7 linked regions of the Homo sapiens genome follow. The protein of the gene in region 1 interacts with the protein of each later gene in a biochemical or structural test. Each region holds a gene or a part of one and is shown in the gene's direction. Other genes may lie near its edges.

Evidence for each region.
Region 2: the proteins of HTRA3 (region 1) and RPS6KA3 interact in a test that uses a peptide from one of them, tested with the Homo sapiens proteins (one large-scale study listed by IntAct).
Region 3: the proteins of HTRA3 (region 1) and CNTNAP2 interact in a test that uses a peptide from one of them, tested with the Homo sapiens proteins (one large-scale study listed by IntAct).
Region 4: the proteins of HTRA3 (region 1) and TYRO3 interact in a test that uses a peptide from one of them, tested with the Homo sapiens proteins (one large-scale study listed by IntAct).
Region 5: the proteins of HTRA3 (region 1) and FLVCR1 interact in a test that uses a peptide from one of them, tested with the Homo sapiens proteins (one large-scale study listed by IntAct).
Region 6: the proteins of HTRA3 (region 1) and GPRC6A interact in a test that uses a peptide from one of them, tested with the Homo sapiens proteins (one large-scale study listed by IntAct).
Region 7: the proteins of HTRA3 (region 1) and ARVCF interact in a test that uses a peptide from one of them, tested with the Homo sapiens proteins (one large-scale study listed by IntAct).

Annotation. Positions count from the first base shown.
Region 1 is NC_000004.12:8,272,754-8,276,253, forward strand, and holds part of HTRA3 (serine protease HTRA3 isoform 1 precursor), read left to right. Parts: intron 1-3,500. UniProt on the Homo sapiens protein: Serine protease that cleaves beta-casein/CSN2 as well as several extracellular matrix (ECM) proteoglycans such as decorin/DCN, biglycan/BGN and fibronectin/FN1.
Region 2 is NC_000023.11:20,151,910-20,155,409, reverse strand, and holds part of RPS6KA3 (ribosomal protein S6 kinase alpha-3), read left to right. Parts: coding exon 1-12; 3' UTR 13-3,500. UniProt on the Homo sapiens protein: Serine/threonine-protein kinase that acts downstream of ERK (MAPK1/ERK2 and MAPK3/ERK1) signaling and mediates mitogenic and stress-induced activation of the transcription factors CREB1, ETV1/ER81 and NR4A1/NUR77, regulates translation through RPS6 and EIF4B phosphorylation, and mediates cellular proliferation, survival, and differentiation by modulating mTOR signaling and repressing pro-apoptotic function of BAD and DAPK1.
Region 3 is NC_000007.14:146,115,356-146,119,600, forward strand, and holds the start of CNTNAP2 (contactin-associated protein-like 2 precursor), read left to right. Parts: upstream 1-1,445; 5' UTR 1,446-1,521; coding exon 1,522-1,618; intron 1,619-4,245. UniProt on the Homo sapiens protein: Required for gap junction formation. Required, with CNTNAP1, for radial and longitudinal organization of myelinated axons.
Region 4 is NC_000015.10:41,579,712-41,583,211, forward strand, and holds part of TYRO3 (tyrosine-protein kinase receptor TYRO3 isoform 1 precursor), read left to right. Parts: 3' UTR 1-3,500. UniProt on the Homo sapiens protein: Receptor tyrosine kinase that transduces signals from the extracellular matrix into the cytoplasm by binding to several ligands including TULP1 or GAS6. Regulates many physiological processes including cell survival, migration and differentiation.
Region 5 is NC_000001.11:212,861,275-212,864,774, forward strand, and holds part of FLVCR1 (choline/ethanolamine transporter FLVCR1), read left to right. Parts: intron 1-2,450; coding exon 2,451-2,595; intron 2,596-3,118; coding exon of another isoform or gene 3,119-3,245; intron 3,246-3,500.
Region 6 is NC_000006.12:116,791,585-116,794,834, reverse strand, and holds the end of GPRC6A (G-protein coupled receptor family C group 6 member A isoform 1 precursor), read left to right. Parts: intron 1-306; coding exon of another isoform or gene 307-311; exon of another isoform or gene 312-619; intron 620-1,584; coding exon 1,585-2,693; 3' UTR 2,694-2,750; downstream 2,751-3,250. UniProt on the Homo sapiens protein: Receptor activated by multiple ligands, including osteocalcin (BGLAP), basic amino acids, and various cations. Activated by amino acids with a preference for basic amino acids such as L-Lys, L-Arg and L-ornithine but also by small and polar amino acids.
Region 7 is NC_000022.11:20,006,824-20,010,323, reverse strand, and holds part of ARVCF (splicing regulator ARVCF), read left to right. Parts: intron 1-3,500. UniProt on the Homo sapiens protein: Contributes to the regulation of alternative splicing of pre-mRNAs.

The DNA of each region.
Region 1 (3,500 bases):
CAGAGACCTGCACAGGACCCGAGAGCCCTGTCGCCACCAGAGCCCACGGAGCCAGGTGGGGAAATGGGGCCTGGTGGGGAGGGGAGGCAGAGAGTGCAGGTGGGAGGCTGCTGGCCATCTCCAGGGCGCCGTTCACACTGTGGGCGGTGTGCAGCCCTGCCACTGTAGCCCGGTGCACGGGGACCTTGGACAGCCAGCTTTCGGCAGGGCGACACGCAGAGTCCACTCCCTGTGGAGGCCTTGGGTGCCCGGCCTCTCCCCAGCCCTGTCTCATTTCCCACGGCAAGCCTGGTCCTTTCCCAGGCACCACAGATGTGCTGCTGGAGGCCAGGAAGGGTGAGGGACTGCTCTGAGGTCACATGGTCAGGAAGTGACCCGGCTGGGCCTGGCCTGGGTCTGGCTGGCTTTGCAGGCTATGCTCTGTGGGCCTCCTGGCTTTTCCTCTGCAAGGGGTGGCAGGGCCCCTGAGGCTGGGAGTCGGGTCAGGCCTGGGCCCCCGGCTCCATCAGGCTCAGCCTCCATGGAGTATTCCAGCAGCGTAGCCGGCTTCTGCCCTCCCGAGGTCCCAGCCAGAAGTTGCTGGGTGCCGGTCACACTTAGTGGTGTGCCAGGCGCTGCCGGGCATTTCTGGGAGGAAGTCCTGCCTGATGAGGGCAGCCTCCTGTGGGCTGAGGTTCCTTGTGCTCTCCTCTCCCCTCCCCATGTCAGCTCCTCCGCCTTCTCCCACCCTCTAGGCAGGAAGGTCTCCTTGGTCCCTTCTCGCCACCCTCCCCCCCGCACCCCCGCCCCAGTAAGCTCATCTGCCATGAAGTCCTCCCCAGGTGCTGGGACTTCGGGCCCTATCTCCAGCCCCCGGGTCTCTCCTGAGTTAGAGTCACGTGGAGATGCCTGCTGAGCCGCCTCGGGCTCTACTCTTCCCAGCCCCACTGAAAGGAGCACCACGATGTTCAGTGGGGAGCCTCGATCCCCTCCGTCCCTCCGCCCCTCATTCCCCTCTTCCCCTCACTCCCCTCAATGCCTGCTGCACTGTCACAGTGGCTCATCAGTTTGGGACTTGGTGTGGGGGTACCTTTCCTGGGCCTGCCCATTGCAGCCCAGCTGTGTGGATGGGGGCCCTTACTCCTCTCCACCCCTCATTCCTCTCTGCCTCTCACTCCCCTCCACCCCTCATTCTCCTGTGCACCGGGAGTCCCCTCAGCTCATCCACAAAACATCTCCTGGGGCGCTCTGACTTCCCCCTCCATCCTCCCTTCCATCACTTCTCACACAGCAGCCAGGATCACCTTGGTCAATCTGTCCTGCCCATGACCTGCAGGCTTCCTTGCAAGGCACCCCAGCACTTACCTTGACTCACAGGGCCCTGTGCCTGCCACCTGGCCCGCATCACCCTCGGTGCCGTCTCCCACTGTCCCCTCATCCCCTGTGCTCTGGCCTCATGGCCTCACCGGTCTCTTTCCCACCTCGAGGCCTTTGCACGCAATGTGCCCACTGCCCGGCGTTTCCTTCCCTTGCCTTAGCGTGGTGGGTTCCTCATCCTGCCTTCACCCGGATGTCCCACCGCCCCTGAGCCACCTGCCCTGGCCACTGTGCCCAGGTCATCCTTCATTGCTTGGTGAGCACACCCAGGGTCTCCGGTGGGCCCTGCACACAGATGTGACTGTGGGTCAATTTCTCTGCGTGATCCCCATCTCCTCCAGGCTCGAAGCCTCGCCGGGCAGGGGCCTGGGCCAGTGCGTGGCCTCTGTAGATGACACGAAATGAGACGAGGGCCCATGTGATGTGTGAATCTCCTCTAACCCTCTGGGCCCTTCTTGCATCCCTCCAGTGACAGAGGCTCACCACTTCTCAGGGGAACCCTCGCATCTTCTCAGGTCCATGTTAAGGCATCGCAGTTGCACAGAGTGGATAAATGTCCATCCACGGGATGGTAAAAGCAGGGATAAATGCGTTTCTGAGGGCCTGTGTGGAGAAGGGTTTCCCTTTGCGCGTAACCAGAGCTCTGAGGCCATGCAGCCTCTCCTCTGGCTGCAGATAAACAGGCCTTGGAGCCTGCCATGCGCTCAGAATGTAGAGCCCCAGAGCAGTTTACAAGGTGGCATTTAATCACCGGCTTTTATTGTGCAACCCCAAGCAGGTTCTGATGGCATCTCCCGGTTGTATTTATTGAAGAACTTGGGTTGGCTTTTGATTTGTAATCCTCTTAGCAGCTTCCTGGGGCTGCACATGCCTTGGAGTTCAGCATCTGGGACCACTCAGGCAAGATGACGCCTCCCCTCCTGCCCCGCCCACTCCCGCTGGGGCTGCAGTGCTGAGCCACAGCATCTGGCGGCACTGGAGGACTTGGAACTGCCGGCAGAGCTGCTTGGCCAAGAGCTTTCGCCAAGGCTGCCAGGAGCCAGGAGTCCAGCCGGACTGGAGCTGAGACCAGGGCGCTGTGCAGCTGCCCTTCCTGCCGGGGCTTGGCCTAGCAAATGCACCCTCACCCCATCTGCCATCCTGTGGTCTTCCCCCGACAGGCCTCTGCCCTCCCATGCAGCCCCACACAGCAGCCTGAAGGGACTTGGCGAGACCCGGACCCTCCCTGCCGAAAGCTGGGCCATGGCTCCCACGGCCTCAGGACTAAGCATAGCCTCCTGGCAGGCTCGCAGGCTTGGTGACCCCAACCACTGCCTCCTGCCCACATCACCACAGCCGCAGACCCCTGTGAAACCCCCATCCTGCATTGTGAGGGACCAATGACAATGCATGGAGCCCAGAAGAGGAAGAAACCACCTTCAGAGTGGAGAGAGGGCTAGATCAGGAGGGCTTTCTGGAGATGGGGGCGTCTAGTTGTGGAGAGGTGGGTACAAGGGGGCCTGTGCACCCTTGGCCTCCCACAGGCTCACCAGGGCCTGCCAGGTGGTCTGAACACCTTCCGCCCAGGCTTGCTTTGAGGGAGGGAGGCCACCAGGTTTCACAAGGGTGAACGGTGTGACACTGGGCACTGTTCCAGGCCCACAAAGCCTTCAACACATCATTGGGGTATTGATGTCCTGGTCCTGTATGAGAAAGGGTTCAGGGAGCTGTAGGAAGCTGCCCTCGGTCACTCAGGTAGGGATGGATGGTTCTGCCCTGAGCCCAGGTCCCCTGGTTCCCCAGCCAGTGCTCTGAATACCAGGCAGGCCCCTAGCAGCTCGAAGTGTCTGCCTTGTTTGGTTTTGATGAGGGTGTTTGTGGACTAATGGGTGGGACAGGGTTTAAAATCATAGACCGCTGTCCTTGGTGCAGCAAAGATATGGCGAGGACACGTCCATATGTTCCCCAAGCTGAAAGCCAGGTCTAGTGCAGGGGTAGCAGGTGACTCCCTGGAATTGTGCAATGTACAGCCTGCCCACCTGTGTGCATTACCCTGCTCCAGCACATAATGGGCAGAGCACCAGGACTGGGACCCAGTTCTGTCCCTCATGTCTGGCTGCTCAGGGTGGAGTCCCAGCTCTGCCCCAGAAGTCTCTGAAGCTCTT
Region 2 (3,500 bases), on another chromosome or scaffold:
ACAGCCCTGTGAAGTGACCTCAGTGAGATATTTGGTACCATGGTGTAAGCTGATAGCACAAGTTCTGGCGACAGGTAGCACGTATCTGAGAGACACCTGCAAGCACACACTGTCCCAGCTGGTACCCATAATGCTGCTGTTCCTGCTGCTGCTCCTGCTTTCCTCTCTTCTCGCTTTAAATGATTGTTAGCAAGTTAGATTTTCCTGGAGCTTCGGAAGAAATGAAAATGGAAACATGATGAAGATATAGTCACTGAATCAATGAGAAAAATAATGAACATATGAATACCACCTAAAAATACACTGAATAAAGTACACCATATAGCATTATTTTTATAGGAAATATTTCATGTCCCTTAAATATTCTTTGTTAGTTATAGGGATGGACAGTTTATGTTAAGCACTTAGCTTAAACAATCCGTTTATATTAGCACTGTATCCCTTGTGCCATCCAACATTTTGTATGTTTTTGTAAACAGTTCATATACAGTACATTTCTGTACTGCTTTCTTTAATGTATACATGCCTTGTTTAACTTGGAATCTATTATTATTAATCAATTGACTATTAAATCTGGTTAAATAGTTCACCTGGATTAACAGTATTGTTGGACAGTCCTAAAAATGGCCAGATTGTGGAACAGCTGTTGAATGTAATACTTCCAAAATGTACATATCTTTCCCCACGTCTGTTTCACTGGTTCGTTCATTTGTTTGTTTCTTAAAGTCAGGTGCTCTGTCAGACTAACCTAGAGAGCTGTTATGGTAGAGAAAGTTATCATATGTGTGTGGCATGAAATCAAGAATACACCTATGAAGTTAGTCCATATACTTTGCAACTCCTTAGAGTACTTTTTTCCTTAATTAAGGAAGTAGTCCTTGCACTTCTAATCTTACATAGCATCCATACTTAGAATTTGGCATATCATCTGGGATTTTGCCAATATACGTCAAAGCCCTTTAAGAGTCATGGTAAGGAGATGGGTGAAGGAAAATTTAGCAACAGGTAATTGAAGTCCTATTGGATATTTCATGTTTAAATAGATATTCTATATTAAACACTAATTTAAATGTAATAAAGGCCAAAGGCCTCTGTATGAAATTGGATTTAAACTTTCTTATTTTAGGGAATAAAACATTATTGATCAAACAGTATCTGTTCTAACCTAAAATTATAGGTAGGGCAGGCTAAGTGAACAGCATTGAGTATTTTCTGAATCCCTCATGATAATTTATAGCCACATACTGCTTCCTTTGACTTCAGGAATGATCAGTTTTCATAATGGCCACTGGGCCTGCTTAGATTGCAGTATTCATTATCTGCATCTAATTTGGTAGTTTCCACAATCGTATTTGATGAAAGAAACTTCAGTCCCCATTATTACCTGTGTCTTTGCCAAGCTGCCTAGCATACATCAGTATGTAATGTAAAAGACATATGAGCAAGAAAAAAGTGATTTAACTTACCTCATCAAGAATGTGCCCCTACAGGCCGGGCGCAGTGGCTCACGCCTGTAATCCCAGCATTTTGGGAGGCCGAGGCAGGTGGATCACCTGAGGTCAGGAGTTTGAGACCAGCCTGGCCAACATGGTGAAACCCCGTCTCTACTAAAAAATACAAAAATTAGCTGGGCATGGTGGCGTGCACCTGTAATCCTAGCTACTCAGGAGGCTGAGGCAGGAGAATCGCTTGAACCTGGGAGGTGGTGGTTGCAGTGAGCCAAGATCACACCATTGCACTCCAGCCTGGGTGACAGAGTGAGACTCTGTCTCAAGAAGGAAAAAAAAAAAAAAGAATGTACTCATACAGATTTTTGTTAGTCATCATGTAATAAGCCATTTATATCAGAAACCTTTTTTCCTGCCACAGAAGCTTTAAATTTTCCCCTAAGAGTACAAAGCCAAGAGAGTGTGGTTTATCTAAATGTCCTGAAATCCACTTGTCATTCCTTAATTTCTCCTCTATGCAATTAAAGAGAAAGGGGAAATCTATAACATTTCTTTTGCCCAAGTGACACAAAAATGATTACTGCATAGAAATCAAATGTAAGTTTAGCTTCTAAATGAAATAATATATAGGAGGGATATCAGAATGTCTAGATAGAGAAAGTATTTTCAAATTCTTGAATATATGGATGCTATTAAAAGCTGCTTTCCATTGCCTGGAAAGAGAGCTTTTTTCCCTCCTCTATTCAGTGTTTCAAACTTTGGTCATCTCAAATTATTGTCACTTTTAAAATGTTAATGTCATTCTGAGCAGAAATAGATATATTTTCAGATTTTTTTACACTGATGCTACTCCGTAATTGCTTAGGAGTATTGTCCATCATAGTATTTTAGAACTAGAAGTAAACACATAAATCCTTATAAATTACCCAATCCAACTTTCTCATATTGCATGTAGAGAACCTGAGACACATATCAAAGTCTAGAATCCTTAACTTCTCCCCATTTTGTTTTTTTCCGCCTCATCACACCATGCTGCCTTTCCCTCATATGATCACCAACCAGTAGCTGAGTTCAAAAACTACATATTTCTTGGGCAGTCCTCTACTGGTATGTGATGCCAACTTTTATTTCTTTCGAAGATAATTGCCTTCTTTGCCTAGCCAAGCAGCCAATTTTATTGGAGAAAAGCAAGTTATATGTTCACAAAATGGAAGGCTTTCTACCTAAATTTATTTCATCTGTGGTCCTCTTATTCTCTTCCATTGCTTTTGACATACAGTGGAAAAACTTGGCCAACGATGTGCTCTAAATATAGTGCTTGTGTTGGGTTAACTTTTCCATTAATTTCTCAACATCAATTATTCAGGCCCCTACAGTTGTGGTATTGAGGCCCCTAAAGGCTTCTGCCTTTCACCAATTAGTGCTGCCAGTTACTGAGGCTTCTCCCAAAAGGTATCAGTCCAGTCTTAAAGATATTTCATTGTGAAAGAAGAAACTAAACTATCAGGCCTCTTTTACAAAATGAGAGATTGAATTTAAGCTTGTCAAGCACGTACTGGAAGGTATGAATTACACTACCATGTGTTTTGTATCTTCCCTTTCAAGTGATGATGTTAAATGAAGGTAAGTTTTTCATCCTTTTTTAATTTTTGTTTTTTATAAATCATTTCAGCTTTTTCTGGTTTATAGAGGTGTCTTATTTCTAATGCAACAGACCCCCAACTTTAACAGATTTGATATGGATGCATTTATTCACAAGCAACCCCAAAAGTCCAAAAATGTAATAATTTTGACAAGGCCCAAAGTTGAGATGCTATGAAGCTTGTGTGTGTGAAAAGTCAGTTATGATTGTCTGGAGAGAAGCTGTGGTGTGTATGCTGTAGAGTTTCCACATTTCACATGCAGTGTACTCCAAAAAGCGGGTTTGGGTCAACCATTTCCCATCTCTTTTTAAGAAGTGACTGCTGTTGGGGCCAGGGGACATCATGGGAGGTGGGGCTGTCCAGTTAGCTGTGCCCTGCACCTTCAGCCCAGGAAAGATTTGAACAGAGC
Region 3 (4,245 bases), on another chromosome or scaffold:
AAACATATGGAGGGTAGAGTGTGAAGAGCTGTGAGCTGGGGAGAAGAGCTTGATAATTATTATTAAAATTATCTAAATGTGAAAAAATCTAGGTCTCTCTAAACATTCTTAATTCTTAGTGCTTGCAATGCCTCAGGTACCTTGAAATAGTTACCCATATGCCTGCTTATGTATTTCCGTTTTGTGTTTGTGTTTGTATGCGTGTTTGCCTAAGTGTAGTTTCTCCTGGCAGCAGCGTGTGTTTGGTGTACGTGTGCATATGTATGAGTACGAATTAATTACATATCGAAAACATGTGCATTAACGGCATCTGCAGTCCTCCCTCCCTGCTCCAGTCAGTCGGGATGTTTAGCACCGTCACTTGGTGTTAGGACCACTCGGAAGACCTGCCTGTCGGACGCCTGACTGTGGTTCCCGGGGGGCCGGAGCTCCAGGAGCCTGTACCATCTTTATCTGAAGGGGAGGAGAGAAGGAAAGGAGAAGGCATCCGAGCGAGGGTGTTCTCCTTCCTGCAGCCGGGTAGGGGGCAGCCAGGTTTGGAGCAGGGTTCTAGGATTACACGGCAAATCCCCAACTTCAGCACCGCGGACAGCATCACCTCCCGCCCAGGGAGAGGCGCGCGCCTCCTTGCTCCGCCCCCGCCCCAGCTGATGGACCCCGGCCGGTCGGCTCAGTCTCCCTTTTGCTTTCAAACGAGGCCAGGGCAGGGCAGAAGGGTTTTGACAGCCAGAGGGGTACGGTAAGGAGGAGGAAGAGGAGGAGGAGGCGGAGGAGGAGGAGGAGCCGAGGAGGGAACCGAGAAGGGAAGAGAAGGGAGGGCTTCCCTCCGCCTCGCTCGCCGCCCGGGCTCACAGGAGCTGGCGGCGGCGGCGGCGGCGGCGGCGTCTCCTGCTCTCCGCGGCTGTTGCTGCTGCTCGCGCTCCGCCGCCCGGGAGATGCTTCCTCGCGCGGCGCAGCGCTGAGGCCGTGCGTGCGCCCCGGCTGCGCTGCGCGCTCCCCACATACACAAGCTCTCCATGTGAGCTGACAGGCGAGTGGAAACCCCTCGAGTCACGCTGCCCGGCGGCGGAGGGAGCGCTCGCCCGCAGTGGCAACAGCTGCACCACCGTCCCCGTCGCTCTGCCTTCCTCTTCTGCAGCCTCTGCTCTTCTGATTACCTCCCTCCCCCGTCCTTTGGTGATTTTTTTTTTTCAAGAAGGAGAGGGCGGGGTAGGTGTCCGTTCCCTCCCCTCTTCCCCCTCCTTTGCCTTCTTGGTTTGAATTTCCTCCCCCGGCGTTGCACTGGCACACAGTGCAAGAGGCAATACCCGCACGGAGGGAGAACGAAGGCTGAGACTCCCCTGCCGCTCCAAGCCCGGAAGAACTGGAGCCTGGAGGGGGGTGAGGGGAGAAGAGGAAGCGGGAGGGGCTTGGCTTCCTCGCGTATTTGAGGACAGCCCATCTCCCTTCAAGAACCCTACGGAGAGTCGGACTGCATCTCCGCAGCGAGCTCTTGGAGCGCCGCCGGCCGGGAGGCGAAGGATGCAGGCGGCTCCGCGCGCCGGCTGCGGGGCAGCGCTCCTGCTGTGGATTGTCAGCAGCTGCCTCTGCAGAGCCTGGACGGCTCCCTCCACGTCCCGTAAGTAGCCGTCTCCTCGCTCTGCTCTGGAGCAGTTTCAGTGCGGCATTGATGTTTGGCACCAGGGTATCAACTCCGAAGTGCATCGCAGTGCTGGCACCCTGATGTGTTTGTGTCTCCGCTGTCACACACTTGCAGCCACTGCAGTAGACAAACTCGAAACCCAGCGTTTCTGTTTTGGAAGAGACAGGGTTGTGACGCTGGTGATGTTTCTGGAAAGTTGTTCCTGGTCTTGGTGATCGGTTGGCAAGAGCTTGGCTAGAGAGACTGATGTAGATGGCAGCTTCTTAGGAGTTGTTTGTGCAGGGAGAGTTAACTGCATTTGGCTTAGGTAGGTCAGTGAATGAAAAGTGAAGACCATGGCAAAACCAAGTTTCTTATTTTTATTTATGGTTATAACTTAATGAGCACGGGGTTGAGGTTAACAAGAGGAGCATGTTTTAAACAGTTTGGGCACCTATAGGGTCTCTTTAACCTCTCCCGTTCCCTTAAAAAGTTAATGCCCATTTAGTACTTGCTTATTAAAATGGAAGGCAGCGAAATTGTAACTGAAATTGCTTTAATTCTTTGATACTTTGATATCATGGATATGACTGATGCAGTACGGTACTTGGGACACTCAGTGCAAAGCGTCGTTAATGTAGTAATAAACAGATTCTTAATAGGGTTTTCAGGAAAATAATTATATTCAATATGTATATCTCTGCATTTTAATCAACTGTGTGTGTGTGTTTGTGTGTGTGTGTGTTTAAGACTGCCCCTGTTTTCATGAGGTTTAGAAAGAAATGGAAGATTCTGGCCCATTTTCTGCATTCCTTTAGAAGTGCATACTGTGCATGTAGAGAGGAAATGCATGATTGTTCCTTTGGTTCAGAAAGAGTTAAACACTAGAAAGACTGCCTATAGGAATCTTAGGATAATATTCATAAGCGCATACTAGTTTCTGAGAATGAGTAAGTTGATAAAGAATTATCGTGGAGATTTCAGAGTTTAAAAGGAAGATTTTTTTGTCCATTTAGGAAAAGAAAAGTTTAATATTTTCCAGAATTCGTCATATGCGAAGTAGTCTTTGTTTCTAAGATTTTGGGATGTATTAATGCATCTTTGTTAATAATGATCTTATTGTAGTGGTAAATATCAACAGGAATAGCATTGAAAAAGGACATTATAAGTTGTAATAAGGAATCTACTATATAATATCCGGTTATGAGCCAGTATTACTGTTTTGACATATCTTCCTAAGTACAGTATTAGCTTTTCTTTTCCCACAATGTGTAAAGATAAGGAGATAAACTAACTGGCAATCTAAGTTTGTAATGAACTTGAAAACATTGTATAGCATTTTTTATAACACAAGTTAAATCACAAAGAGTTAAATATTGTTAATATTTATGTCAATTTTATAAATTTAAACAAATTTTGGGGATATAATGCTTGCTGTTGATATTTACACAAATATGTAACTCTATCACTGGGAAACTAGTTTGATGAAATTTCTGTTTCCATTTCAAGGTCTGGTTGTATAGAATTTCCTGCCACTTTTCCTGGAAAATAAACTCCTCATATATTAAATTTATTATATTCACTGATTGAAGGTCCTCATATCCAGGGTTTTTCCTGGGTTCTGTGTTCCATCATTCTGTATACTTTAATTTTGATGGGTCCATCTGAAACATCTGCCATGAGTAGCAAATGGAACACTGGCAGCCCTTGGGTTAATGCATTTTAAGATAAAAAAGTTGTTATTTCATAAATATTTTCTGAGTTTTCAACTTTATAGTTAGAATTTGAAGACAGAGAACATAGAAACAATTACTTTTAAGATGGTTAATAGTTATGGCCATTAAGATTTTTTATTAACTTGGCTTTCATTCTCTATTGTTTAAAAATGTGTAATGGCTTAATTAAGGTGGCTTTTTATTTCGTTTGAATTTAAACTGTGTGACCAAAATGCAAAGTTGCCCTATATCCTGGAAATGAATTAAATAATAAGGATGCTACAGAACTTTATTGATTAGAATGAGTTTCATGGATTCAGTACTTTAAATATCAACTGTACTTTACATTAATGAACATTTTTATTTACATTATATATAGCTCTGAAGAAAAGTATGATAGTTATATTCTTAATATAAAACATTCAAAGGAGAAAAAGATGGAAACTACATGAATCTAAGATAATGAGCAACTCAACCAGGAGAGGTCATCACAAGACAAAAAGTAGCATGAAAATCTAAAACTATCATTTTTCTTTGGTACACATTTTTAAAATGTGATGAGTATGCTAAAACTTTCTGTTCCTAAATACCTTTTTAATATGAGGGACAGAAGATGTTTATTTCACAACAACTGCATTTCAAATATGTATTTGCTTATGACTTATTTCTTTTTCTCTGTCGACAGACATATAAAAACTGTTAATACTATGTGTTGTACAAGCAGACTAGAATAAACTTGAAAACAAAGCTCATCACTATGGTTATGTAAAAATATAATCTAATTTCTTTGCAGATAGCGAAAATGAACTGCTGCTGAGCTGATGTAACAAATCGTGTATCTTCCCTTCCTGTAAATGTAGATACACGGGACACACGTGGGAAGTTTAAAGAAAATATTTCACTCTTAGG
Region 4 (3,500 bases), on another chromosome or scaffold:
GAGAAAAGTCTGGAAAGACATATGCCAAAATGTTAACAGCTGTTATCTTTTTTTTTTTTTTTTTGAGACCGAGTCTCACTCTGTCGCCCAGGCTGGAGTGCAATTGCGCGATCTGAGCTCACTGCAAGCTCTGCCTCCCAGGTTCACGCCATTCTCCTGCCTCAGCCTCCCGAGTAGCTGGGACTACAGGTGCCTGCCACCACGCCCGGCTAATTTTTTGTATTTTTAGTAGAGATAGGGTTTCACCGTATTAGCCAGGATGATCTCAATCTCCTGACCTCGTGATCCGCCTGCCTCAGCCTCCCAAAGTGTTGGGATTACAGGCGTGAGCCACCGCACCTGGCAACAGCTGTTACCTTTAAATGATGGGGTTAAGGGGACGTTCTTCTTTGTGCTTTCCAAGTTTTCTGCATTGAGCACAAAATGCTTTTGTAATTAGATACAGGATCCCAATGAATCTTATTATACTGAAGATAATACAGAGTCACCGTGGGCAGTTAGAAAAATGCAAAAAATCGGCTGGGCGCAGTGGCTCACGCCTGTAATCCCAGCACTTTGGGAGACCTGGGTGTGTGGATCACGAGGTCAGAAGTTCAAGACTAGTCTGACCAACATGGTGACACCCCGTCTTTACTAAAAATACAAAAATTAGCTGGGCATGGTGGCGCGTGTCTGTAATCCCAGCTACTCAGGACACTGAGGCAGGAGAATTGCTTGAACTCAGGAGGCGGAGGTTGCAGTGAGTCGAGATCCCGGCAGCCTAGGTGACAGGCGAGACTCCATCTCAAAAATAAAATAAAAATAAAAATGCAAAAAATAATAAAAGGTGCCAGTTACCTATACTCCCACCACCTAGAGATAATCACCATTGATCTTTTGAAAATGCAAATATTCAGCTGGGCACAGTGGCGTGTATTTTTTTTTTTTTTTGAGACGGAGTCTCGAGTCTCTCTCTGTCGCCCAGGCTAGAGTGCAGTGGTGTGATCTCGGCTCACTGTAACCTCTGTCTCCCAGGTTTAATCAAGTCTCTTGTCTTGGCTTCCCGAGTAGTTGGGACTACAGGCACGAGCCACTGTGTCCGGCTATTTTTTGTATTTTTTTGTAGAGACAGGGTTTCGCCATGTTGGCCAGGCTGGTCTCGAACTCCTGATTTCAAGTGATCTGCCTGCCTTAGCCTCCCAAAGTGCTGTGATAACAGGGGTGAGACACCATACCCAGCTTGTAATCCCAGCACTTTGGGAGGCTGAGGCGGGTGGATCACTTCAGGCCGGGAGTTCGAGACCAGCCTGGGCAACATGAAACCCCATCTCAACTAAAAATTCAAAAAAGTTTAGCCAGGCTTGGTGGCGCAGGTTTGTCATCTCAGCTACTGGGTGACTGAGGCATGAGAATCACTTAAACCTGGGAGGAGGAGGTTGCAGTAAGCTGAGATCTTGCCACTAAACTTCGGCCTGGGTGACAGATTAAGACTGTCTCAGAAACAAAACAAAACAACAAAAAAGCTTTTAGAGCAAGTTCATGGGAGATGCAGCAGGAGGCGCAGGAACCACACATGTGCTAGTGAGGAGTGTGGGGAGACTGGGAGGGCCCACAGGTATTGTGCTGCTTCTGGCTGAGGGCAGGGGAATAGGGTGGCTGCTTCTGAAAGCAAATATCCTGAAAAACCTGTTGCTGGTACTCCAAATTCTGGTTCCCATGTAGATCATGAAACCTGAAAAACTTCCAGGCAAGTAGCTTTCAGAATCTTTCCTGCTGTGATTAGCTTTCACTGCAGGTAGTGATTACCTGTGAGATAACATCTGGGAATTATTGATTGAAAAGACCTTCACTATCGGTTGGGGGCGGTGGCTGATGCCTGTAATCCCAGCACTTTGTGAGGCTGAGGCGGGTGGATCACCTGAGGTCAGGGGTTCAAGACCAGCCTGGCCAACATGGTGAAACCCCATCTCTACTAAAAAATACAAAAACTAGCCAGGAGTGGTGGCAGGCACCTGTAATCCCAGCTACTTGGGAGGCTAAGGCAGGAGAATCACTTGAACCCTGGAGGCGGAGGTTGCAGTGAACTGAGATGGCACCAGTGCACTCCAGCCTGGGTGACAGAGCGAGACTCCATCTCAAAAAAAAAAAAAAAAAAAAGAGGCCAGGCATGGTGGCTCACGCCTATAATCCCAGCGCTTTGGGATTTTCTGTCTCAAAAAAAAAAAGAGAGAGACTCTGGATCAAAAAGGATTTTCACAAACAGATCCAAAGAACCAGCATCCAGATTAAGAAACAGCATTAACAGCAACCCAGAAGCAACCCTTGGGACCTGCCTCAATCTCTGCCTCCTCCCTACTCCCCATAGGTAACCTCTATCCTGACCTCTTAACACCATGGATCAGTGAAGCTCCTTTTAAAAGTATATAAATGGAGTCATGTAGATTTGATTACTTTGCGTTTGGCTTCTTTCCCTCAGCAACATGTTTATAAGGATCATCTAACAACAGCAGTTTTGAAAAGTGAGTCTCAAAGAGGCAAGAATGGCCGGGCATGGTGGCTCACACCCGTAATCCCAGCGCTTTGGGAGGCCGAGGCGGGCGGATCACAAGGTCAGGAGTTTGAGACCAGCCTGGCTAACAGGGTGAAACCCTGTCTTTACTAAACCCTGTCTTTACTAAAAATACACAAAATTAGCCAGGTATGGTGGCAGGCACGTGTAATCCTAGCTACTCGGGAGGCTGAGGCAGGAGAATCACTTGAACCTGGGAGGGGGAGGTTGCAGTGAGCCACTACATTCCAGCTTGGGTGAGAGAGTGAGACTCCATCTCGGAAAAAAAAAAAATTAGCTGGGCGTGCTGGTGGGTGCCTGTAATCCCAGCTACTTGGGAGGCTGAGGTAGGAGAATTGCTTGAACCTGGGAGGTGGAAGTTGCTGTGAGACGAGATTGTGCCATGGCACTCCAGCCTGGACAAGAGTGAGACTCCATCTCAAAAAAGAAAATAATAATAATATAGTTTATTTTTCAGTATTTCATGTTGATTTATCTCAAATTTATTGTTGAATAAGAAGTGATACAGAGATTCAAAGTTATTTTTCCCAGATACTTTTTATTGTCCCAATACCACCATTTATTGAACAATCTATATTTTATGCACATTTCTTTTTTTTTTCTTTTTTTTGATACAGGGTCTTGCTCTGTTTCTGCCTGGGCTGGAGTAAAGTGATAGTAAACTGATTCTCCCACCTCAGCGTCCTGAATAGCTGGGACCACAGGCACACGCCACTGCACCTGGCAAATTTTTAAGTGTTTTTTTTTTTTTTTAATACAGAGCCTTGCTCTGTCGCCCAGGCTGGAGTGCAGTGGTGTGATCTCGGCTCACTGCAACCTCCGCCTCTCAGTTCAAGCGAGTCTCCTCCTGCCTCACACTCCCAATTAGCTGGGACTACAGGCACGTGCCACCACAACATGCTAATTTTTTGTATTTTTAGTAGAGACAGGGTTTCACCATGTTAGCCAGGAT
Region 5 (3,500 bases), on another chromosome or scaffold:
TGTCCTGTTGGCTTGGAATATTTCTTCACTTGACTAACTCCAATTTCTTATTCAGATCTTTGCTCCTCCAGGAACTTTTTCTGAACCCCATTTCTTTTCATTCTTTTTGATAGCTGAATAATATTTCTATATAAGGTGCTCCCCCAAAGTACTCTCTTAGCTACCATGATCATATGTCCCAGTTTGCTTGGGATAGTCCAGGTGGTACACCTGTTGTCTGGTATGATTACTAATGAAGTCCCTTTCATTCTGAAGAGTATTCTAGATGGATAGTAAATTACGTGGTCTCCCCAGTCTTGGCACTGTTTACGTCTCAATCACAGTACTGTATTACCACCCTCTCTTGTAATTACCAGTTATATTCTTTCTATCTAGCTTTTTGTTTTATTTTTATTTATTTATTTATTTATTTTGAGATGGAGTCTTGCTCTGTCCCCCAGGCTGGAGTGCAGTGGCGCGATCTTGGCTCACTGCAAGCTCTGCCTCCCGGGTTCATGCCATTCTCCTGCCTCAGCCTCCCGTGTAGCTGGGACTACAGGCACCCGCCTCCACACCCGGCTAATTTTTTGTATTTTTTAGTAGAGACTGGGTTTCACCATGTTAGCCAGGATGGTCTCGATCTCCTGACCTCGTGATCCCCCCACCTCGGCCTCCCAAAGTGCTGGGATTACAGGTGTGAGCCACCGCGCCTGGCCTCTATCTAGCTTTTTGTAAGGGAGCAAATGAAATATTTGATAAGTGTGACTATCTCTGCCTCAGACTCCTTTCTTGGGCCCTTCCTCCTCACGCCCTTCCTCCTAAAAATCTTCCTCCTAAAAACCTTCCTCCATTGAACCTCCTAATAGTTTGATTTTATTTCTTGTGATTATGATATTTAGCCATATTTTTTGTTGAGGTAAAATTCACATAAATAAAACTAACCATTTTAATGTGTACAATTCAGTGGCGTTTAGTACATTTACAGTGTTGTGCAACTGTTACTTCTGTCTAGTTTCAAAACATTTTTATCCACCCGCAAAGAAGGCCCAATACCTACTAAACAGTCACTTCCCCACCATTGCCCCCTCCCCTAGCCTGTGGCAAGTACTAGTTTCCCTTCTCTTTCTGTGGATTGACCTGTTCTGGATATTTCATATAAATGGAATCATACAGTAGGTGACCTTTTGTGTCTGGCTTCTTTCACTTAGCTTATTTGCAAAGTTCATCCATGTTGTAGCACTGTATCAGTACTTCATTCCTTTTTAATAGCTGAATAATATTTCATTGTATGAATATACCACATTTTGTTTATCCATTTATCTGTTGATAAATGTTTGGGTTATTTTCACCTTTTGGTTATTGTGGTAATGTGAATAGGGCTGCTGTGAACATTCATATGTAATTATTTGTTTGAATTTCTGTTTTCAGTTTTGGGGACATATACCTAGGAGTAGAATTGCTAGGTCATATGGTAATTCTATGTTAAACTTATTAAGGAACTGCCAAACTTGTCTGCAGTGGCTGCACCATTTTATAGTCCCACCAGCCGTATTCAAGGGTTCCAATTTTTCCACATTCTTGCCAACACTTTTATATTGCTATTATTGTTATTATAGTAGCCATGCTACCTGGTGTGGAGTGGTATCTTATGGTTTTGATTCGGGCATGTTTTCAAATGCTTATTGACCATTTGTATATCTTCTTTGGAGAAATGTCTATTCAAGTCTTTTGCCCATTTTAAAATTGGGATATTGCTTTTTTGTTGTTGAGCTGTAATAGTTCTTTATATATTCTGGAAGCTATACCCTGATCAGATATATAATTTACAAATTTTTCTGATTCTGTAGGTCATCTTTTGTCAGCCTTATTTTGCATATTCTTATTCCCCTTTTGTAAGCATCTGCAGGGCAAGGACTGTATATTACACAGCTTTATAATAGCAGCATCACTCAGATGGTAGGAACTCAGTAAATGTTTTTTGGATAGGAGAGATATTGGTGAGCAATTTCCCTTTAACAATACAATAGTAAAAAAGACATTAGAGCATAGTAGTTTAGGCTGGGTGCAGTGGCTCACGCCTGTAATCCCAGCACTTTGGGAGGCCGAGGCGGGCGGATCATGAGGTCAGGAGTTCGACACCAGCCTGACCAACATGGTGAAACCCCGTCTGTACTAAAATACAAAAATTAGCTGGGCGTTGTGGCGCGCGCCTGTAATCCCAGCTACTCAGGAGGCTGAGGCAGGAGAATTGCTTGAACCTGGGAGGGAGAGGTTGCAGTGAGCCAAGATTGCGTCACTGCACTCCAGCCTGGGAGACAGACTTTGTCTCAAAAAAAAAAAAAAGAACATAATAGTTTAATTTTCAAAGCACCTTTATAAACACTAGCTGTCCTCTTTATGTTCTGTTAATTGCCAGCATTTACTTTTTTCTCTAATGATAATAGCTGTTAACAGGACTATGTGTTTTTCAGCTTGGAACTGCAGTTGGCTTTTTGCTACCACCAGTTTTAGTACCCAACACACAGAATGACACAAATCTCCTGGCTTGTAATATCAGCACCATGTTTTATGGAACATCAGCTGTTGCCACACTTTTATTTATTTTAACAGCAATTGGTAAGTGAATTACTTTCCCTAAAGCTTAAATGAATGCATGATAGAAATTTGAGAATAACTAACTCTGGAAATTTTTGTTGATAATATCTCAAGTGTCATGTGCTTTGTTTCATTCTTCCATGCCCTGTCTTGCTCAGGTAATGAATGCTACAACCCTAGGGATGTTATGGCCCACTACATTTATTTTCACATTGTGAAGGGTTTGAAGACTAATTCATTTATCCCTCTACTAACTTTTCTTCTTGGTAACTGTTGGTTTCAAATATATTACCTGCCTCCTCTTCCCATATTCGCCTACATGGTCTGCATCTTATGCCTCTTATGCCTACCTAGCCAGGAACAAGTTCTTGCCATGCTTTGAAGTGATGCACGTAGGCTATGGTCTTTCTGGTAATGCTAAATTCTCCCAAGGCTTTCCAATTTAACAATTAACTGGATCTGAAAATGTTGACTAGTGAATGGTCCTGGGCAGCAGCAAGCTGTTCAGCAGAATTTCAAACTGTGGCAACTATCTACTTGTTAGGCCACTCCAGCAAAGCACGGCTGCCACCACTCGTCACTGAGTCCTCTCGTCTGAGCCTGTCTCTTGAAGCAGTCAGTCAAAATCAACTGCAAGCAGCCATCATCAGTTTGGAAGAAGCTTTGGGAAGGTCTGCTTTTTAAAGTTTATTTTTAATGGGAAACTTTTGATTTCAGGGAAAAGGATAGGTAAGGTTTATTTAAGTAATATAGCTGCTAGCATAACTATAATATTGCCCTTTAGGCACTCATCTGAAATTGATTTGAAGAGGAAAAGAACTAATAAAGTTGAAATGCCATCTTTTAATCATTCAAATTTATAATTTCATTATAGCTGGAGTTTTAAATTTATATACTAGTTTTTACAATGGCTATAATAGTAATGG
Region 6 (3,250 bases), on another chromosome or scaffold:
AGAGTATCAAAACTTTATATGTATCTGCATTTTATTATCTCACATTTAAAATTTTCCCGTTCCTTGGTATGTTTAATAATGTTTATATTAGTGGAATTGAGCATTTAAATTATCAATAAATAAAAATGCTATACCACTGCCTAAAAAATTAGATAATTAGCGAGGGAGTTTTTCAGGCAACATGGTAACTAGCAACTACCTTCCAAGTGAGAGAAATAAAAACACCAAGGAGTATGTAACATTTATTTTCCATAAAGACGTACGGGACCCTTTAAAGGCTGTATCTGGGTTTTCTTTTGGTAACAGGGTAAGTCGCTTCCAAGAACAAATGGAGAAATGTAGAAGACTGAAGACAACTTGGAGGATAAGCTAGGAGTTAGGAAAGCCTAAAAGGATACCATCTGCTGTTCCTCTCTATCTCTCTAACACACAGCTCCCATACCTAGATGAGGCCATTAAATGTCCACTGGACGAATGAAATGACAGACACTAGCAACTGTGGTTACAGGGCAAACAGAAAAGAACAGATTTTTTAGGGGAATAGAGTTCGGAAAGAGGAGGAGGCTGGAAGGGTCATGAAGTTTATAAACAGAAATACAACCTTACTTTGAGGTTAATAAAGAAGAGAACACAAAATTTTAAAGAGTTGTACAGGCTGTGGGGTGTCATCAGATGAATGCCCTGACAGAGGCCCTTTGATTGCAGCTGAGACTCACCAACTTTGGGTGGCTGGAATGGGGAGCAAATGTAATATCACTTCTAGAGACAAAACTCTAAAATCAAGTATTTGTGCTGCCCTGCAGCCAGAATAAGCATAAATACTTTTCAAAGTTAACACTTACAGTGTGAGAGGCTCTGATTTACCCACTACTTGGAGAAAAAATAAACTTTAATTCTTCATCAATTGCCATCGATTACAATTTTGCATTATCTCACTTTTAGAAAGAGACTTCAAGCTTTCAGAGTGACCTAGCCATATTGCCTCTGCTTTTGAAAGACCTGCACCCTTATTCACGATAGCAACTCCCATACATTGAGGGTCTACTATGTGTAATGGTCTGTGTGAAGCATTTTACATTTATTATCTCATTAAGTACGGCATCACAATACGGCAGAGTCTTTTCATTTTATTATTTTTTGAGATATGGGAGATTCTGAAATAGGCTCAGAAAGTTCAGTTAGTTTGTTCAAGTTTACAGGAATTATAAGTGGAAGAGATAAGAAAAGCTACGTCTGATTCCAAAACCTTATTCTTAAGAGTGCTGGAACCATCATCTATAATAGCAAATGCATAAGAAGCTAGCATCTATTCTGAGTATATTCATTTCCTAAACATTCACAATCCAGCTGGCTTTTTTTCTTTCTCTATTTTCTCTTTCTTTTCCTTTTTCCTCACTTTTACCCTTTCTCTCTCACTTTCTTTGAGTTTTAGCATGTTTTATTTTAATAAGTAACCAATGTAACAATCATCTATATCTATTCTCTAGTCAGAACTATTAAAGAAGACGAATCTCATTTGTAGTATTGTGGACTATCACCTAGTTTAAATGTTGACAATGTAACTGCGTCTCCTCTGTCTTTTAGATATGCCTCACTGCCTTTTATGCAACAACAAAACTCACTGGGCCCCTGTTAGGAGCACTATGTGCTTTGAAAAGGAAGTGGAATATCTCAACTGGAATGACTCCTTGGCCATCCTACTCCTGATTCTCTCCCTACTGGGAATCATATTTGTTCTGGTTGTTGGCATAATATTTACAAGAAACCTGAACACACCTGTTGTGAAATCATCCGGGGGATTAAGAGTCTGCTATGTGATCCTTCTCTGTCATTTCCTCAATTTTGCCAGCACGAGCTTTTTCATTGGAGAACCACAAGACTTCACATGTAAAACCAGGCAGACAATGTTTGGAGTGAGCTTTACTCTTTGCATCTCCTGCATTTTGACGAAGTCTCTGAAAATTTTGCTAGCCTTCAGCTTTGATCCCAAATTACAGAAATTTCTGAAGTGCCTCTATAGACCGATCCTTATTATCTTCACTTGCACGGGCATCCAGGTTGTCATTTGCACACTCTGGCTAATCTTTGCAGCACCTACTGTAGAGGTGAATGTCTCCTTGCCCAGAGTCATCATCCTGGAGTGTGAGGAGGGATCCATACTTGCATTTGGCACCATGCTGGGCTACATTGCCATCCTGGCCTTCATTTGCTTCATATTTGCTTTCAAAGGCAAATATGAGAATTACAATGAAGCCAAATTCATTACATTTGGCATGCTCATTTACTTCATAGCTTGGATCACATTCATCCCTATCTATGCTACCACATTTGGCAAATATGTACCAGCTGTGGAGATTATTGTCATATTAATATCTAACTATGGAATCCTGTATTGCACATTCATCCCCAAATGCTATGTTATTATTTGTAAGCAAGAGATTAACACAAAGTCTGCCTTTCTCAAGATGATCTACAGTTATTCTTCCCATAGTGTGAGCAGCATTGCCCTGAGTCCTGCTTCACTGGACTCCATGAGCGGCAATGTCACAATGACCAATCCCAGCTCTAGTGGCAAGTCTGCAACCTGGCAGAAAAGCAAAGATCTTCAGGCACAAGCATTTGCACACATATGCAGGGAAAATGCCACAAGTGTATCTAAAACTTTGCCTCGAAAAAGAATGTCAAGTATATGAATAAGCCTTAGGAGATGCCACATTCCAGAATAAAATGTTTCCAGGGTCTTTGCATCTAAGATATAAATTTACTTTCCCAGCAAATATGTCATATATATTTCCTTGCCACCATCTTTACCAAGTTTTAGTTGAACAGTCACTCTGTTCAATCACCTATTTAACAAATAGAATTGAGCCTTCAGCCTGAAGCTCCCTTCATTTCCTACCTTTTTCATTGGTCTCCATCTTTACCTGCTTCCTCTTAGGCACATCGTTAAAGACTTCTCTTCTAATCAAAGTTGTCCCGTAATGTGTCATCCTTACTCCATTCCCGACACCCTCTTCTCAAATCTCTTTGGATTCTCCTCTCTTGAGCATTTTTACTTTTCTTCCACTGTTCAGTGTAGTTGAACAAGCACTTGAGCAATTACTATGAACCAGTTGATATGCTAAATAACAAGGTACAAAAGCAGCAAGGTGTCTTTGATGATCTCAAGGAGCTCAAAATCCAAGGAGAAACAGGCACATATCAACATCTTCAATCAGTGTGAGGAAGTCTATGATTATAATGTATATAG
Region 7 (3,500 bases), on another chromosome or scaffold:
CCTGGGTAGGCACAGCCCCTGGGCTGGACAGGGTGGATGTGAGGGCCTCCTGCCACCAGCTTGGGTTTGTTACTGGCCTGAATATGGGCAGCAGCCACTGGTTTGATGTCTGGCTTTAGGGACAAGCCTGTTTGGGGCTGGCTGACGAGGTTGCTGGTCAGTGTTGGTTTGGACATTCACTGGGTCTGCTCTTCACCTGCCTGAGCTAGGATGCCAGCCGCAGTGGCATCCAGTATTGGCACAGCCTGCTGGGCCAGGCCATTCGCTTGCCCCCCAGAGACTGGAGCCACAGGGACAGAGGATAGTCCTGGAGGCCAGGCACACAAAACTTTGTTTGAAAAGGTCTGATAGTAAGTAATTCAATTTTGCAGGCCTTATGGTCTCTGTCACAGCTGCAGTTCTCTGCCATTGTAGGATGAAAATGGCTGCAGACAGCCCATAACTGAATAGTCTGAATGTACTCTGATCACAGCCGTAGGCCATGTGTACTGGCCCGTGGCCTCAGGTGTTATCTGTGTTTGGGGTTCCTCTGCTTATCATGGCTGCTAGCTCCAGTGGGACTGAGGCATAGCGCCTGGGAAGCATGGCAGGGTTGGAGGCTGAGTGGTCCATGTCCCCCAGGACCCTCTGAAGGATGGTAAGGCATACCCTGCTCACATCCACGCTGCCAGAGTTTTGCCACGATGGGTGCTGTTCAGCAGAGTGGGTGATGGCTTAAGAGAATGGCTCCTGGCCATTCTTGTTCCTCCAGTCCCCACCCTGGCCATCTGCCTGTCCCCCCAAAAAGCAGTCTCTGTGGGAGGCATGGCTGACAGCCCTGTGGTTTCTCAGTGACAATTAGTGCCCATTGTGGAGGCATGGCCCAGCCAGTGCTGTGCCTAAGTGGTAGGGAGAAGGCCATGGCCTCCGGATGCCTGAGTGACCTAGGCTGAGGGATCTAGGGCAGATGGGAGGGACAGGATGACTGACTCCTTGCCTGTTCCCAAGTCCTTGGGCATGGAAAGCTGCCGGCCGGGCCAGCCTAGTGGGAGCTGGGTCTGCTGCCGCCTGGCTGTGTGGGAGGACCAGCGTCTGGCCGAGAATGTCACTGCTCAGGCCATTTGGCCATGCAGGGTCTTCTGGGTTGGGACAAAGAAGCTCAGGCAGGGTACTTGGCTTGCTTGTGGCACAGGTGACAGGGCATCTCAGGGTGGCAGGAGGGGCTGTCCCACTGCCCTTAACTCCTCGTAGGTCACCACACTTCAGGGAGGCCAGGTCAGCCAGACACCAAACGACAGCCCTGGTAACAGGGTCCGCAGGAGGGTGGTTGGCTGGGCAGGTCCGAGGCTGCCCAGGCACACTTGCTCACTCTCCCTCCTGTTGCTTGCTCCTTTCTTGTCCCTTCTTTTCCCTCCCCCCTCCAGTTCTTGGTCTTCTCTATGTTTCTCTGTGGCCCTCTCTGTGCCTCTTTCTCTGCCTTTCCCCATCTCCTATCCTGCCCATCTGGAATGTGGTGATTGCTTATTCCTGTCTGCTGTGGTGATTGGTTTTTCATGTCTGCCCTGGGCACTGGTGCGATGGGTGATGGCATTTGTGCCATCTCTGCTCTGGCTTGGGCAACCTGGGCTCTGGCTTGCGGCTGCCTGCTCTGCTGGGCCCTGGGGTGTGGTCCTGTCCACAGCGGGAGGCAGCTGGGGAGGGAGCCTCAGGGCTCAGCTGGGACAGGGGCTGATGTAAACACCCATGTGTCACCACACTCAGCACCCACTCACCCAGCCTCATGCTGGGTCCTGGGCATCACAGGCACATCAGGCCCAGCCCTGCCCCTGAGGAGCTCCCAGCCTGGTTGAGGAGATCCACAACACACAGAGGAACCAGTGGCCAACTGTGGGGTTACAAGATGGTGATGAGTAGCATGGCTCCCTTAGGAGGGGGAGCTGGGAGGGTGTGATGGGGTGGTGCGTGCTGAGACCAGGCCTGAGTGAGAAGGGCTGGCGGGGACACAGATGCCCTGCCGTTTCCCATAGCTGGCCAGCAGTGGTGTCCTCTCAGAGACCAGCACCAGCCTGGCCTCCTCCATCAGCCGCCGTGTGCCTGCAGGGGGTTGCGGCTTCGTCTCCTGCGGCCGCCTGGCCCCTATGACAGGCCTTCTCTTGGGTTTTGATGTGTTTCTCAGCCATTGTATGAGTCTTTGTATATTAAAGATATTAATTCTTCACTCCTCTTTCTGCCTACTGCACATTTTTCTCACCCTTTTAGTTTTTGTTTATGATCATTTTGATGTCAAAAATGTTTCATATTTTGTGGTGAAGTGTGTTGGATTTTTCCCCATTTTTAGATATTCCGTCTCTCTGTGTAGTCAACTCTCCCTAGCATGCAGCCAGATAAAGATGCACCTGTCTTTTCTTCTAGAAGGTATTTTTACTTTAGTTTTGTACACAGCATTTAATCTGTCTGTCTTAGTCCATTTTGGGCTGCTGTATCAGAATACCTGAGACTGGCTAATTCCTGAAAAACAAAGACTTATTTCTAACAATTTTGGAGATGGGGAAGTCCAGGATTGAGGGGCCACATCTGGCGAGGGCCTTCTTTGTCGCTACATCCCCCAGGAGGTGGCAGAAGGGCAGGAGCACACGTGAGAGAGCGCTGAAGGAGGCGGAACCCATCCTTTTATCAGTAACCTGCTCCCGAGATAACAAATCCACTCCCACTGTAACGGAATTAATCCATTCATGTAGCAGAGCCCTTGTGACCTAAACACCTCTTAGAGGTCCTACCTTCAACACTGTTGCGTTGGGAATTAAGTTTCCAACACGTGAACTTTGGGGGACACGTTCAGCCCATAGCACAAACTAGTATTTATTCTGATGTAAATGGACGGCAAGGATTTAACTTTGTTTTTACAGCTGCATCTGAACTGTTTCCTTTTTGTTTGTTTGTTTTGAGACGGAGTCTCGCTCTGTCACCCAGACTGGGGTGCAGTGGCGCATTCTTGGCTCACTGCAACCTTCACCTCCCACGTTCAAGCAATTCTCCTGCCTCAACCTCCCGAGTAGCTGGGATTACAGGTGCCTGCCACCATCACCAGCTAATTTTTAAATTTTTTTTTTTAATAGAGATGGGATTTCACCATGTCCAGGCTGGTGTCGAACTCCTGACCTCAGGTGATCCTCCCGCCTCGGCCTCCCAAAGTGCTGGGATTACAGGTGTGAGCCACCGCTCCCGGCCATGCCTGGCTAATTTTTGTATTTTTTGTACAGACAGGGTTGTGCCATGTTGCCCAGGTTGGTCTCGAACTTCTGGGCCCCAGCAATCCACTTGCCTTGGCCTCCCAAAGTGCTGGGATTACAGGTGTGAGCCACTGCACCCAGCCTTAAATTTTTACCTTTGATATACTATTTATTTCAAAAGGGTAGGCCAGGCGCGGTGGCTCATGCTTGTAATCCCAGCACTTTGGGAGGCTGAGGCAGGCAGATCACGAGGTCAAGAGATCAAGACCATCCTGGTCAACATGGTGAAAC